2 linked regions of the Homo sapiens genome follow. The protein of the gene in region 2 interacts with the protein of the main gene of each other region in a biochemical or structural test. Each region holds a gene or a part of one and is shown on either strand. Other genes may lie near its edges.

Evidence for each region. Proteins that work in one complex are often made in the same cells at the same time.
Region 1: the proteins of NTHL1 (region 2) and ERCC5 form a complex in vitro, tested with the Homo sapiens proteins (2 studies listed by BioGRID).

What each region holds. Positions count from the first base shown.
Region 1 is NC_000013.11:102,863,023-102,870,053, reverse strand, and holds part of ERCC5 (DNA excision repair protein ERCC-5), read right to left. Parts: coding exon 6,951-7,031; intron 4,388-6,950; coding exon 4,143-4,387; intron 3,793-4,142; coding exon 3,673-3,792; intron 3,423-3,672; coding exon 3,209-3,422; intron 1,942-3,208; coding exon 1,797-1,941; intron 1-1,796. Other genes in the region: BIVM-ERCC5 protein, read right to left, coding at 1,797-1,941, 3,209-3,422, 3,673-3,792, 4,143-4,387, 6,951-7,031. UniProt on the Homo sapiens protein: Single-stranded structure-specific DNA endonuclease involved in DNA excision repair. Makes the 3'incision in DNA nucleotide excision repair (NER).
Region 2 is NC_000016.10:2,044,835-2,052,516, reverse strand, and holds the start of NTHL1 (endonuclease III-like protein 1), read left to right. Parts: upstream 1-4,682; 5' UTR 4,683-4,693; coding exon 4,694-4,808; intron 4,809-6,125; exon of another isoform or gene 6,126-6,150; coding exon 6,151-6,389; intron 6,390-7,682. Other genes in the region: TSC2 (tuberin), read right to left, coding at 2,031-2,117, 3,764-3,901. UniProt on the Homo sapiens protein: Bifunctional DNA N-glycosylase with associated apurinic/apyrimidinic (AP) lyase function that catalyzes the first step in base excision repair (BER), the primary repair pathway for the repair of oxidative DNA damage.

The DNA.
Region 1 (7,031 bases), on a different chromosome or scaffold from region 2:
TTCCTGCTCTTTACTCTGTATTCATCCTAAATGTCCTGAGCCAGGCAGAGCGAAGGCTGCTCCTATCTGGCATCAACGAGCTGGAGGACCAAAGGCAGAAACTGCTCAAATATGAAAATGATTCAGCAGGCAACAAACGAGCAAAAACTGCTGAACAAAGAAAAGTGGAACAGCATAAACAGGTCATTCACTAAATCAGAAACACAAACCGTCTATGAACATAAAAAATTCACTCTCAATAGTTATCAAGAAACCAAATGGAAAAGTCAGATACTATTTCACTTATTCTAAAATAATCATTAGATAAGAACCCGAAGATTAAGGACACTCAAATCAATGTCTGTTAATACCTTTCTAAAAATAGAAATAACAAAAGACACTTGATTAAACTAGCCCTGATAGACGCAAAAAGATACTACCTGTAGCCATTAAAAACGATATAAATCTATATCATCGTTGATAATAGGTCTTGTTCTAATACCAAATGGGTTACAGGTAAAATAAAAAGTATATAGCATCATCCCATTCTTATAAAAAAAATCATACACACACTCAAATGAGTATACATATATATGCAATGTATATGCATATATATGTGTGAAGTCTAAAATTACATAAACAAATTGTAAACTGTAATCATCTTTTTAATACATATTTATAATTTTCTATGATGTATTTACTTTATTTGTATAATAAAGTTATTTGTAGGTTTTCAAGTTATTTACCTACCATGACGTATGTCTACCTCATAACTCATTCCCGGTATATAAATTTCCTCAACAATAAGAAAATCAGAAAAAGATAAATGAAGAAAGTATAAAATACAACACATTGGTGAGTGTGCTATGACTGGAAGACCATGATCACTACAACAGTTTCGCCGTTCATTTCAGTGATTCCAGTCACTGACTCTTCAGGTCAGAGCATCCTAGCATCTTTCAAACACAGGATATGTAACTGGAGAGAACACTCAAGGATCATTAAATCAGCCACCACCAAACAGCATCTCACGACATAGTGACGGTTAAAAGATGCCACCACAATCTTGTGAATACACTAAAAACCAATGAACTGTACACTTTAAATCGGTGAACTCTGTGGTATGTGACTATATTTCAATTTTTTAAAAAGATGCCATCAAGGACAAAGAAAAAACTACTTTCCCAGACATACTCATAACTCCTACCATCTCAGAATCTTCAAAATGATAAATGTACCCCGAGTATAGCACGACTCTGGGTTCTGGATGGAGCAAGACTTCACCACTGAACACGTCACGGGATTCACATGGTGAGAAACAGGACAGGAGTGCTGGATGTAACATTCCTGGCATTATATTTCCAAGTCGCTTCCTGGCTGACCTCTCTCAGGACACCAAACACACAGACAAGTACAATTTGCTTTGCTTCTCCATCACCTCCAAGTATATGGGGGGAGTCCTTGAGGGTATGGCCTATGCCTTACTCATCTCTCCTTTCCCCAGGGCCAGCACAGTGTCTGACACATCATAGCTGCTCTATAAGTATGTCAATGGATGAAAAGGCAACTTCTACATTCCTGTGAAATCCACAGGACTGGCTTTGTACCCTTGAACTAGGATAAGCCCAGCACCACTAAGAACTGACTCTGATTTCATCATCTCTAGAAAATGGAAAACAACCAATACTTTCTGCTGCTTTCTCAGTGAACCATTGTTCACATGTTACAGCATGACAGTTCATGCTGTAAATAATAGTTCTATTTGCTTATTTGGGTATTTACACAATTATCCAAATTAAAGAAATAAAAGACCTTACGAGAATTTTAGGAGAGGTTCCAGGCCATGCCCAGGGAATTCATTGAGAATTTCCATGGCGGTTACACAACCCACAGTTGGTATTCCTTCGGTATAATCACTTCCAAGCAAATAAGCCAAATTTATTAACTTATTCCGGTCCAATCCTAAAGAGTAACAATATTTTTTAATTTTTATCAAGATTTCTTATATGACATTTATAAACATTTTATTATATAAATCATGTACGTGTGTATATCTATATCTATATCCAACCACCAAAAATATCTTATTATTTGAAAATAAATTATTTTATTCAATGGCATTCTGTTAATATTTTTAAAGTTTCATCCATTCTCATAGCTTTAAATACCCTCTATACGCTGACCCCCAAAGTTAGCTATCTAGCCTGAGTCTCTCTGAACCACAGTCACATATATTCAACTATCAACTCAACACCTCCACTGGGTATCCAATGAGCATCCCCAATTTATCATATCCAAACCTGAACACTTCGTTTCTCCTCCTCCACTGTGCTCCCTCCTTGTCTTACTGAAGGCAGGTCCACTCGACCAGCTGCTCAGTATCTGGAATCCTCCTCGACTTCATTCTTCTCCCACCCCACATTCAATCTGCCTGCATACCCTAGCACACCAGACCCTGGTGGGTTTCAGCTTCTTCCTATTCTCTAAGATTAACCCTTGCCATTTCCTCCCTCCTCCTCTCACACTGGCCTCCTTGCTTCCCTAGAACACAGCCCACAAGCTTCTGCCTCAGCCCCTTTCACTCACTAGTCCCGAGGTATCTATCTACAGTGCTTGCTTCCTATTTCCTGCAGGTCCCTGCCTTGAAGTTACACGAGTAAAGCCTTTCCCAACAACTCTCTGAAACAGCACCTGCACTCTCGATGCCTGAAGTTCACTCTCTCCTCTCCTTTACTGTTATATTTTTCTATTTGGCACTTACCACCAACTGTCAAATTATGATTTATGTATCTGCTTATCATCTGTTTCTCCTACTATTTTACTCTCTGTTCCTTCCCTCTTGTTAAGAACAACTGGCATATAGGAGTCACCAAACATATATTTGCTGGATGAACAGAAGAAGATCAGTGCCAGAAACCCGAATACAGGCCCAGGCGCGGCCTGCTTCCCCTCTCCACCACCTTTTGTTCACTGTGGAGATCTCGGGTAACTAGTCAAAGTTTAACTAAGTCAGTTGATTAACTACCTAAACATACTAGGACTTTAATTCCTTAATTCAAATGTTTAAAATCCTATTCCTCTATATAAGCCAAAGATCACTCATATAAAAATTTGCATAGACCTGCAATTTCCATCAATGCATCAAACTAGTTCCTTGGAAAGAAAACTTCCTAGGACAAACTCTGAAGGTAAATGTCAGAAAGTAATCAAAAAGACTCTGAAGTCTTACCCAATTGATTGTGAAAGTCCACATATTGATAATATTCTACAAACTTGTTTTTATTAAAAAAGTTTCTATAGACATGCCGCGCTCCAAACAGCCAGATATCACTGTCATCAGTGATGGTTCCGGAAGTCTGATCAGTCAGGTCCAGGATGGCGCACTGCGCCTCTGCTTCCATGGGAGCCTGGATGTAGGGAATGCCGAACAGGCGCAGGAGTTCCTGCAGAGTGAGGGGTACACAGTGACGCCCAGGGAAGGGCACCGCCAGGCCCTGAGCACAGGGGGAGCAGTGCCTACCACTTCATGTAATGCATTCATTCCTGCAGAGTTAGGGACACACAGTGACCCCCAGGGAACGGCATCACCAGGCCCTGAGCACCAGGGGGCACAGTGCATACCCCCTTCATGCAGTGCATTCCCCCAGGGGTCTGAAGAAGGTGGTAAAGGAAACCCAAGCTGCCTGCACCCACCTGGCTTTCCAGGAACATCTGTCCGGTGACAGTAGCAGCGATCCGTTCTTGCTGCTGTTTTTGAGCTTTCAGTGAATTCTGCTGTGCTAAGAGGTTGCTCTCCAGAGTTTCCAACTCCTCCTATAAAATGTTTTTTCATTTATAGATTTATATTAATAATCCAAATGAGTTTTGTTTACAAAAAGCCTGCATTTAGTCTGACTGAAATTACCAATAAGCTCTTTCTCCTTAGGAAGTACTCCACTGGATGTCTAACCAAGACTCTGTAATATCTTTAGAGATTCATCACTAAACCACATGGAAAACGGAGTCTATCCCAGCCAGTAACCTACACAAAAATGAAGCCATCAGCAACCACAAGATGTACTGCAAATAGCTACTAAATACTCATCCACCAACTCCTTAAAACTCAAAACCTACTTAACCTGGCTTCCTCAGCAAGAAGTCGAAACACAATGTTACGGTATTACCAAATTAATATCTTGCCATTCATGGAGCGAATCTTCCGCATCTTTCTCAGCTTCCTGTGGCTCACCATCCACGTCGTCCCTCTCAGAGTTGTCCCTCAGGAGGCTCTCGGACTCAGCAGGGGCTTCTCCCTCCCTAGTTCCTACCAGTTCCTCTTCGCCTTGTTCTGAGGGAGGTTTGGAAGTTTCAGGGAATTCTGCTTGAAGTTCCTCATCACTAATCACACTTTGCACTTCAATGAAACTTCCTGTACCAAAATTAAAAGGTCACTTCATCTACAATCAAAACATTAAAATGATCCTGCAATCATCAAGAGCTTTCTGGAGGAACCTGAAAAATGCTACATCCTAAAAAGGAAAGATATGACTATAACAGAATACATGTAATAGTAGCGTTATTAATAAATAAATGTAATCACAAATGCCTGTAACTTCAAAACAAGCCTTTTCAATTAGGTAAACTGGCACTGTCTTTGAAAGTAGGAAACTCTCTTAAGATTTGTATATTCGCTTTATATAAATATGTTCTAAGTTAACTGACATTGTTTTAAAAATTCAAAAAGGAGGATTATCAAAGTATATAAACAATCATGGAAGTTGCTCAGTATGTTTTTATGCTATTTACACAGCACAGAATAAAGCTGTGACTAAGAAATAGTTCTTCCTCTTCCACTTCCCTTCTCTCCTCTCTTACTGTCTTACTGTCTTTCCTTCTCCTTAAAATATATTTAATGGTTGCCTTCCTTCCCTGTAGGTGGAGAGGGCTGGCAAGGCCTGTCCAGCTGGGTTTAAGGAGACAATCAGAACAGAGGAGGGGGCTCTCAGGGACTGGGAGCTGGCACCAAGGACACAGCTGAAGCAAAGAAGAGAGCAGGGCCAAGGAGGAGGCCAGTGGGAGGGGGAGATGGTTACATATCCAGGGAGAATAAGCAGATGTAAATGTATTGAGGATAAGGGGAGCAATGTTTCTCATTGTTAGGGAAACTATAAAGAAGCAGGAGGCTAGACTGAACCCCATGGAATTGCAGATGTCAGTATAAACTCATGGATTTTAGTACAGATAGACATAGAAATAAATATAGATGTGTGTGTGCATGTATATGTATACATAAATATACTTCCTGGCACTGTTGCTGAAAAGGCCTGAGACAGTTATACCTCAGGATCCATAAGCACACTCACATCCAGCTTGTGGTGTCTAAACCCCATGCTCCACTGAAAGGAACCAGAGCTCCCTGGTGAAATGGCTGGTTCCAGGACCAGGGCAGAGAAAGTACAACATATGCCTGAAACAGCTTGGCCAGAAAGCAAGGAAAAGCTCAAAATATAATGAAAAAACTGCTGAAAGCCATTAGAAGGAGCCCCAATGGCCAAAGCTGTGATAATTTGAGTAACAAAGTAAATTATGACAGTATTGGATTATAACTCACTAAATAGGAATACAGGAGTCTACACTGATTAAAAATAATAAAAATAAATGGGGAGAAGGAAAAGATCTTCCTCATAGGAGGATGTCAAGTAATAATATATAAGGAATGATGGAGTTAGAAAAACCATCATTTGGCAACCAACGTAGTAACAAATTATTCAGGTAAACATCAATGGATGCTAACAAGTGGGTGGAAGTTTGTTCAGGAACAGCATATTTATATAGCTCCAAAAATTCCTTTTCCACAAAATACTTATTAATTACAAAAGGGAAATAGTAACATTTGAATGAAGAAAACTAGCAGATACCAGGAACAAATTGTGTGTGTGTGTGTGTGTGTGTGTGTGTGTGTGTGTGTGGTTGATTCTCTTATTCAAAGTGGCCATCACGTATGAAGTCTCTGTGAACACTAAATTAGCCAATACCGAGTCATTGCTCCTAAACATATCTATGTGCATATACACACATATGCATATATAACATATATATGAACACATTTCATATATATTATCTTAAATCCTAAAAAACCACCATCTTAATAGATTCCATTTATTTTATAAACAAGAAACAAAGTTCAAGAAACAAATTAGTGACCTGTGTGAAGCTGCCACGCTAACAGGTGCCAGAATAGGGATTCAAATCTGGTCCAACTGGCCTGGGGCCGGAGCTTCTTGCTCTCTCTCCATTGCATAATCCCCTACTGTCCCCACCCTCTGGTCATCTCTCTCAGAACACGGGAACCAGGCAGAGTGTCACCTTGCTTAACCTCAGCAGGGGACAGTGTGGCAACTCAAGCTTTTCCCCAACTCTGCAAATGTCCACAAATGACCACAAAGACATTGCGGTGAGTACTGATTTTGGAGTTATAAATAAATTTTAGTGATCAGGCAATTTTGCAAATATGGAATCTACAAATAATGAGGATCAATGGTATACATATGTATACAGATTTGGAGATATATGATATACATATAGAGGGCCACAGAGAGACCAAGAGAAATTCTAAGCTAATGTGGTAACATGCTAGCCACTGAGGTACTGGATGAAGGAACCAGTGTTTTATAATATTCTTCCAACTTTTTAAAGTTCATAATTATTTCAAAATAAAAAGTTTTTAAAAACTAGAGGGAAACTCAACTTTACCTTCCCCAAATAGGGCACTTCATGCCTTTAAAAATGATAACAAAAAGCAGAGCAACACAGGGAAGGTCAAGATTCCATGACCAGCTGTGACTCCCTGGGAAAGTCATTTCATCTTTCTTTCTACGTCTCTCGTTCCTTATCTGTAAAAAGTTAAAACGGGACTACACTAACCGATCTCTGAATTCCTACAGAGGGGAAATCCTACCGTTCCAGATTTCTACAAAAGCACAGACACGTACCATCAGATTCACTTTCTTCCGAGTCAATTTCCATTGGTTCCACGGCCTTTGGAATGGAAATTAAATCCTGGCCTGCAGATT
Region 2 (7,682 bases):
GCAACACAGTGAGACCCTGTCACGACAAAAAATACAAAACTTAGCCAGGCGTGGTGCTGCATGCCTGTAGTCCCAGCTACTTGAGAGGCTAAAGTAGGAGGATCACGTGAGCCTGGCAGGTTGAGGCTGTAGTGAGCCATGATTGTGACACTGCACCCCGGCCTGGGTGACAGAGTGAGACCTTGTCTCTAACCAAATAATAACAAAATGGCCGTGTTCTTTTAGATGTCATCTGACCAACATCCCAACCAATTCAGACAACTGGCACTCTCACCTCCTTTGTCTCATTGACAATACTCTTACCGTTGCAACCTGAGCTGCAAAGATCCGTGGACACAGGGCCCGGGACCATCCCAGCCTCGGAGGCCTATTTATCCACTCACAGGCTGCCCCGTACCCACACAAACAACTTTCAGAACAGGATGCAGGACGCTTGTTCTTTTTTTTGTTTTCTGAGACAGTCTTGCTCTGTTGCCCAGGCTGCAGTGCAATGGCACAATCTCAGCTCACCACAACCTCTGCCTCCTGAGTTTAAGCGATTCTCCTCCCTCAGCCTCCCAAGTAGCTGGGATTACAGGTGCCCGACACCATGCCCAGCTAATTTTTGTATCTTTAGTAGAAACAGGGTTTTGCCACATTGGCCAGGCGGGTCTCGAACTCCTCACCTCAGGTGATCCATCCACCTTGGCCTCCCAAAGTGCTGGGATTACAGGCGTGAACCACTGCGCCCGGCTAAGGACACCTGTTCTTTACACCTATCTTTGGTAGCGTACGGCCAGCACGTTTCAGATGAGCTGCTGCAGAGGTAGCAATCACTCTCCTCTTAGCAGATCTGAGCATGAGAGGTCCAGGTCTCACTGCTCTCCCACACACAAATGCTGGGCAAGGCAAGGGCAGAGCCCTCAGGTGCTCTACCAGCAACCTGCACTCCCAAAATGACCACTTCCTGTCCTGTCCACAAGTCATCAGGAAAGTCTGGCAATGTTTGCCCAAAATAAATATTTCTATGTCCGTGAGGTCGCCCAATACCACCGACCAGTCACCCTCCCAAAATGGCACCAAGACCAGCGTGCCTAGGATTGTTCTCTGTGGAACAAACCCTTTCTTGATTTTTCTTGGCCTGAACTTGTAACAGGAGAGAGCGAGTGAGCATGCGTTTCTATCAGCCACTACAAACTCTTCCTTTTTTTTTTTTTTGAGACAGAGTCTTGCTCCGTCACCCAGACTGGAGTGCAGTGGGGCGATCTCGGCTCACTGCAACCTGTGCCTCCCGGGTTCAAGCGATTCTCCTGCCTCAGCCTCCCAAGTAGCTGGGATTACAGGCATGTGCCACCATGCCCGGCTCATCATCTTTTAGTACAGACGGGGTTTCGCCATGTTGGCCAGAGTGGTCTTGAACTCCTGACCTCGTGATCCACCCACCTCGGCCTCCCAAAGTCCTAGGATTACAGGCATAAGCCCCCGCACCCCCGCTCGGCATAGAAATCCTTTCTGGTGTTGCTAGAAAAGCCTAATCCCTTTGCTCCCCATTTCCACGCTTGATTGGTCCCTCAAGGTTGTATTCGGGGCATTTCCAGTAGCTTCCCCATCACTACGATGAAAGCTAAATTCCCCTAAAACAGTGCAAACTGGCTGGGCGCAGTGGCTCACGCCTGTAATCCCAGCACTTTGGGAGGCTGAGGCATATGGTTCACGAGGTCAGGAGTTCAAGACCAGCCTGGCCAACATGGCGAAACCCCGTCTCTACTAAAAATACAAAAAGCCGGGTGTGGTGGCGCGTGCCTGTAATCCCAGCTACTCAGGAGGCTGAGGCAGGAGAACTGCTTGAACCCAGGAGGCAGAGGCTGCAGTGAGCCAAGATTGTGCCAGCCTGGGCGACAGAGCAAGACTCCATCTCAAAAAAAAAAAAAAAAAAAAAGTGCAAACCAGATCATCGGCAGTCAGCTGTCAACCATGTTCCTAAAAAAAGCAAACTCAGGCTCTGAATAGTCTACGTGCCTCTCTCTAGTAGCTCAACTGGATAAACCTACCTCTTCAAATTTCTTGGTTTTTGCGACTTCACAAATCTGCCCTATCATCCGGATGCGATTGTTGAGGCCACATTCCATGCTCAGTTCCTGGAGAGAGATGAAAGAAGAAAAAGGGGCCAGTGCTCAGGCCACGGTCTCCTTAACTGCAAGTCACAAACCACCTAAAGACTCCCACTGCATTTTCCAGACTAGAGACTTAAAACAGATCTTTCTGGAATCAAGATTCACTTGACGAGCCGCGGTGGCTCAGGCCTGTAATCCCTGCACTTTGGGGGGCCAAGGCAGGTGGATCACCAGAGGTCAGGAGTTTGAGACCAGCCTGCCCAACATGATGAAACCCTGTCTCTACTAAAAATACAAAAAATTTGCTGGGCGTGGTGGTGGGCGTCTATAATCCCAGCTACTCGGGAGAGTGAGGCAGGAGAATCCCTTGAACCCAGGAGGCGGAGATTGCAGTGAGCCGAGATCGCGCCCCTGCGCTCCAGCCTGGGTGACAAGAGCGAAACTCGGTCTCAAAAAAAAAAAAAAAAAAAGATTTACTGAGGGGCTTTACTGCTCCATCCCGAGGAGTTGAGAATGTGCAATTTTTTTTCACAACTGCAAATGTTGTATTGAGATAAAACATAACATGAAATACAATTTCAAACTGCACAATTTTTTTTTAGACGGAGTTTTGCTCTTCTTCCCCAGGATGGAGTGCAGTGGCGCGATCACGGCTCACTGAAACCTCCGCCTCCCGGGTTCAAGCAATTCTCGTCTCAGCCCCCCGAGTAGCTGGAATTACAGGCGCCCACCACTATGACCGGCTAATTTTTGGTATTTTTAGTAGAGACGGGGTTTCGCCATGTTGGCCAGGCTGGTCTCAAACTCCTGACCTCAGGTGATCCACCCGCCTCGGCCTCCCAAAGTGCTGGGATGACAGGCGTGAGCCACCGCACCCAGCCAGGATGGACTATATTTTATTCATCAGTTGATGAACGTTTTAGTTGTTTCTAAGTAGAAAACTTTACAAGTGCAAAAATTCAGCATTTACTCATGGGCAAAACACAATGCCAGGCATGTGTGACAAAGACACAAACACACATAAAAGATAACGACCTAGCCCATGTGCGATGGCTCATGCCTGTAATCCCAGCACTTTGGGAGGCCAAAGCGGGCAGATCACCTGAGGTCAGCAGTTCAAGACCAGCCTGGCCAAGATAGTGAAACTCCATCTCTACTAAAAATACAAAAATTAAATGGGTGTGGTGGCACGTGTCTGTAGTCCCAGCTACTCAGGAGGCTGAGGCAGGAGAACCACTTGAAACTGGGAGGCAGAGGTAGCAGCGAGCAGAGATTGTGCCACTGCACTCCAGCCTAGGCAACAGAGCAAGACTCAGTCTCAAAAAAAAAATAAAATAAAGAACCTACTTCTCCCAGGAACTCACATCTTATCATGTAACACCTGGACATATCCTTACCTGTGAAGATGATGATACTCAGGCCTCATCTATAAGATGGGCTTTCTTTCATCAACATCTGAATAGTAACTCAAGTGTGCCTGAACCAGGTCACCAAGATCCTGACTTTCGAAGTCTCCTGAGGAAGGACATGTCGGCCTCCAAGTACTGGAGACAGCATTCCTGTGTAGACAGTTGCCAGCAACCCGTCTCCCACAGAACCTGGTGCAAGACCAAACCCAGCCTTCTCTGCATTTCCCTCTAGCCTAGCAAAGACACAGGTAGCTCACTCACTCTCAGTATTTCCGCGGTGATGATAAACTCCGTCTGTTTACCCTCTGCAGACCTGGGATTTGGCCTCGGTGTTCCCAGTCCCAACAGAATCTTAAACTTCTCCTTCAAGCCTGAATCTTTGCTTGTTGGTTTGGCCATGGTGGACCAGGACGCACCAGAAAACCCCTCTGTGCAAACGAAACAGGAATGGGGACATCTGAGCAACACCTCTGCCCACCTTCCCCACTGCGGACCTCCAGCCGTCAGGACCCTGGGTCTCTGGTGGGCATAACCTTTCCTCCCACACTCCCTGGGAGAACTCAACTACAGCCCAGCTGACCAGCTCGCAAACAGGCACCTAGGAAAGCCCGGGAGACACCAGGCCTGGTCTAGAGAGCTCTCTACTCAGACGCTGCCGCCCGCCCCGCCCGACTCAGTGCACGGGTTAGGACTGCCGCCGCGAAGTCCTGGGAGCCCCGACGTTTGCCGTCTCTCCTCTACCCATGTGAAGCAGGAGCTGTCACGGAGCCGCCTGCAGCAGAGACCCGTTCGCACCCGCCATGACTTAAAACTAAGGGATGCTCGGAGCTCCGGAGTCGGGTTGCAGTGGGCGCGGGTGAGGGCCCGGGACCCGGACACTGCGGGGTCCGCCTCTCTAGGCCGCTGCCCCGTGGGGACCGCCACTTGCCCCGTGGGGACCGCCACTTACCCCGCGCCGCGCCACCGCGCTCCGGGCCGCCCCGACGCGGAGAAAGGCGCACCCCCCTGGCCCCGGGACGCCGCCGGAAGCGCGACCCGCACTTCCGGTAGCGGCATTGCGCGGAGGGCCGCCTTGGGAGCTTGCTGGGAGTTGTAGTTCTGTGCCGCCCTCTGGCGGAAAGGCCGGCGATCCTTGCATCACGTGACGGGGCCGCATGGGCCGCCGGGATGTGTAGTCCGCAGGAGTCCGGCATGACCGCCTTGAGCGCGAGGATGCTGACCCGGAGCCGGAGCCTGGGACCCGGGGCTGGGCCGCGGGGGTGTAGGGAGGAGCCCGGGCCTCTCCGGAGAAGAGAGGCTGCAGCAGGTAGCGCCGCGCCGTGGCTGGAGCGTGGGAGGAGGCGGGATAGGGGCTGCAGGCTGGAGTCCCGGGCCGCCTCCTGCGGCTCCCAGCTGCGCGGGCAGGGGCTGCAAACCCGGCAGCCGCGAACGGTTCCCACGTGCGGCCCTGCGTTCCCACCTTGCGCCTTTTTCCCAAAGATTGCGGTCCGCAGGGGCTGGGTTTCGGGCGCTCCGCTCCGCTGCCCCCTTTCGCCCCAAGCAAGAAAACGCTTCCTTTCCCACCACTCTGTCCGGGACTCTCCACTCCAGGCTCTGTGGGTCCCATCCCCGCCCTCCTGCAGTGAACTTGCTGTCCTCGGAGAGGCTGGGTGCCAAGGACACACGCAGCCAGAAGCCTGCTCCCCCAGCTCGGGGGAGGGTGCCTCTGAGGGAAAACAGGAAAGGGCATGGCACTTATTATATTTATCCTGCAGCCGTTGAGGACCTGCTGGGGGCCAAGCACTGCAGTGAGCAGTGAGGGACACGGACAGGGCCTCTGCGCTAGTCCCGCTGGGACTTCTGCAGAATTGGCCAGAGCTGGATTCCCATAGGCACCCAGGGACCCCAGGGGTAGTCCAGACTATGTCAGGAGGAACTGGTGCAGCTGGGAGCAGGCAGGTGGTGATGCCAGCCAGGGTGGCAGGAGCTTTGATGCCAGGATAGAGTTTGGAGTTTATTATGACAGTAAACGGAAGTCAATTAGGAGGTTTTGTTGTTTGTTTTGAGATCGGGTCTTGCTCTGTCACCCAGGCTGTAGTGGAGTGTTGTGATCTCAGCTCACTGCAACCTCCGCCCCCCAGGTTCAAGCAGTTCTCCTGCCTCAGCCTCCCAAGTAGCTGAGACTATAGGCCCCTGCCACCACACCCGGCTAACTTTTGTATTTTTAGTAGAGATGGGGTTTTGCCATATTGGCCAGGCTGGTCTTGAACTCCTGACCTCAAGTGATCCACCCACCTCGGCCTCCCAAAGTGCTGGGATTACAGGCTTGATCCACCGCGCCCGGCCGGCCAGGATTTTTTAAAAGGGAGTGACACAACCTGATGTGGGTGTTAGCAGACTGTCTCTGGTGCAGTATAGAAGATGTATTGGGGGCACCTTGGTACAGGCTGTTGCTAGAGTCCTCATGAGCTAACATGGACCTTGTCAGGGTCGCTGGCATAAGGAGGGCCCACATACCCCAGACTGCAGAGGGCAGAGCACCCCAAGTGTATTAGATGATGGACAGTTGTGGCATGAACGAGTGAGGGGTGAGCTAGCAGGCGGGATGGCACCCCTACCCTACCTTCACCTGTGGCCCCACCAGAGGGACTGCGTGGTGCTTTTTGCAGAAGCGAGGAAAAGCCACAGCCCCGTGAAGCGTCCGCGGAAAGCACAGAGACTGCGTGTGGCCTATGAGGGCTCGGACAGTGAGAAAGGTGAGGGGGCTGAGCCCCTCAAGGTGCCAGTCTGGGAGCCCCAGGACTGGCAGCAACAGCTGGTCAACATCCGTGCCATGAGGAACAAAAAGGATGCACCTGTGGACCATCTGGGGACTGAGCACTGCTATGACTCCAGTGCCCCCCCAAAGGTAGGCAGGGGCCCCATCTGCCCAGATGACCCCCCATCTTAGCAAGGTCCTTGTTTTCTTTCTACCCGGTGGCTTTTGGCTGGCACCCTCCCCTGCAGACAGCACCTTGGGAGGATGGACACCCGGTGCCCCAGAGCATCGCCTGCATCACTGTAGCCACTCAGCAGGTCAGGACACCAGTGGTTTAGGGCCTCGTGCTCGAACTTCTGCCCAGTGCAGGCGTGACCTGGGCTTTGTGTGATATCAGGAAGGAAGAGTTCCTTTTGCTTCACGGTCCCAGGGCCTGAAACCCTTAGACCAAGCTGAGTTCTAATCCCTATTCTGCTACCAGGTGGCTTGGATACAGGCCTCTCTGAGCCTCAGTTTGCTTGTCTGTAAAATGGGTAGTATGGGCCAGGCATGGTGGTTCAGGCCTGTAATCCCAGCACTTCGGGAGGCCAAGGCGGGTGGATCACCTGAGGTCAGGAGTTCGAGACCAGCCTGGCCAATGTGGCGAAACCACGTCTCTACTAAAAATACAAAAATTAGCCAGGTGTGGTGGCAGGCACCTGTAACCCCAGCTACTTAGGAGGGCGAGGCAGGAAAATCGCTTGAACCCCGGAGGCGGAGGTTGCAGTGAGCCAAGATGGCACCACCACACTTCAGCCTGGGTGAAAGAGTGATACTGCATCTCAAAAAAAAAAATTTGTTTTAAAGGGTAGTGTGATGATTCACGAAGCAATCATAATAGTAGTGGCCAATGGCTGTTCAGTAGTGATGGGCCAGATACGATCGTGTTGGGTTTTTTTTTGAGACCAAGTCTTGCTCTTGTTGCCCAGGCTGGAGTGCAGTGGTGAAATCTTAGCTCACTGCAACCTTCGCCTCCGAGGTTCAAATTATTCTCCTGCCTCGGCCTCCCGAGTAGCTGGGATTACAGGCATGCACCACCGCACCCAGCTAATGTTTGTATTTTTAGTAGAGACGGGGTTTCACCACGTTGATCAGGCTGGTCTCAAACTCCTGACTTCAGGTGATCCGCCTGCCTTGGCCTCCCGAAGTGCTGGGATGACGGGTGCGAGCCACCACGCCCGGCCACATACGATTCTAAGCACTGAGATAATTCATTTAAGCTTCACATTACTCCAGTGAGTCAGGTACTATTATTGTCCTGGTGTTGTAGATGACCAAACATACCCAAACCAGACCTCCCCACCCCACAGGGGGAGGCTGATGCCTCAAGTGTGGCCCAGGGCAACAAACCAGGGTGTGTCGAGGGCGGGGGGCGGAGCCTGGCCAGGGAATCACCCAGGACCC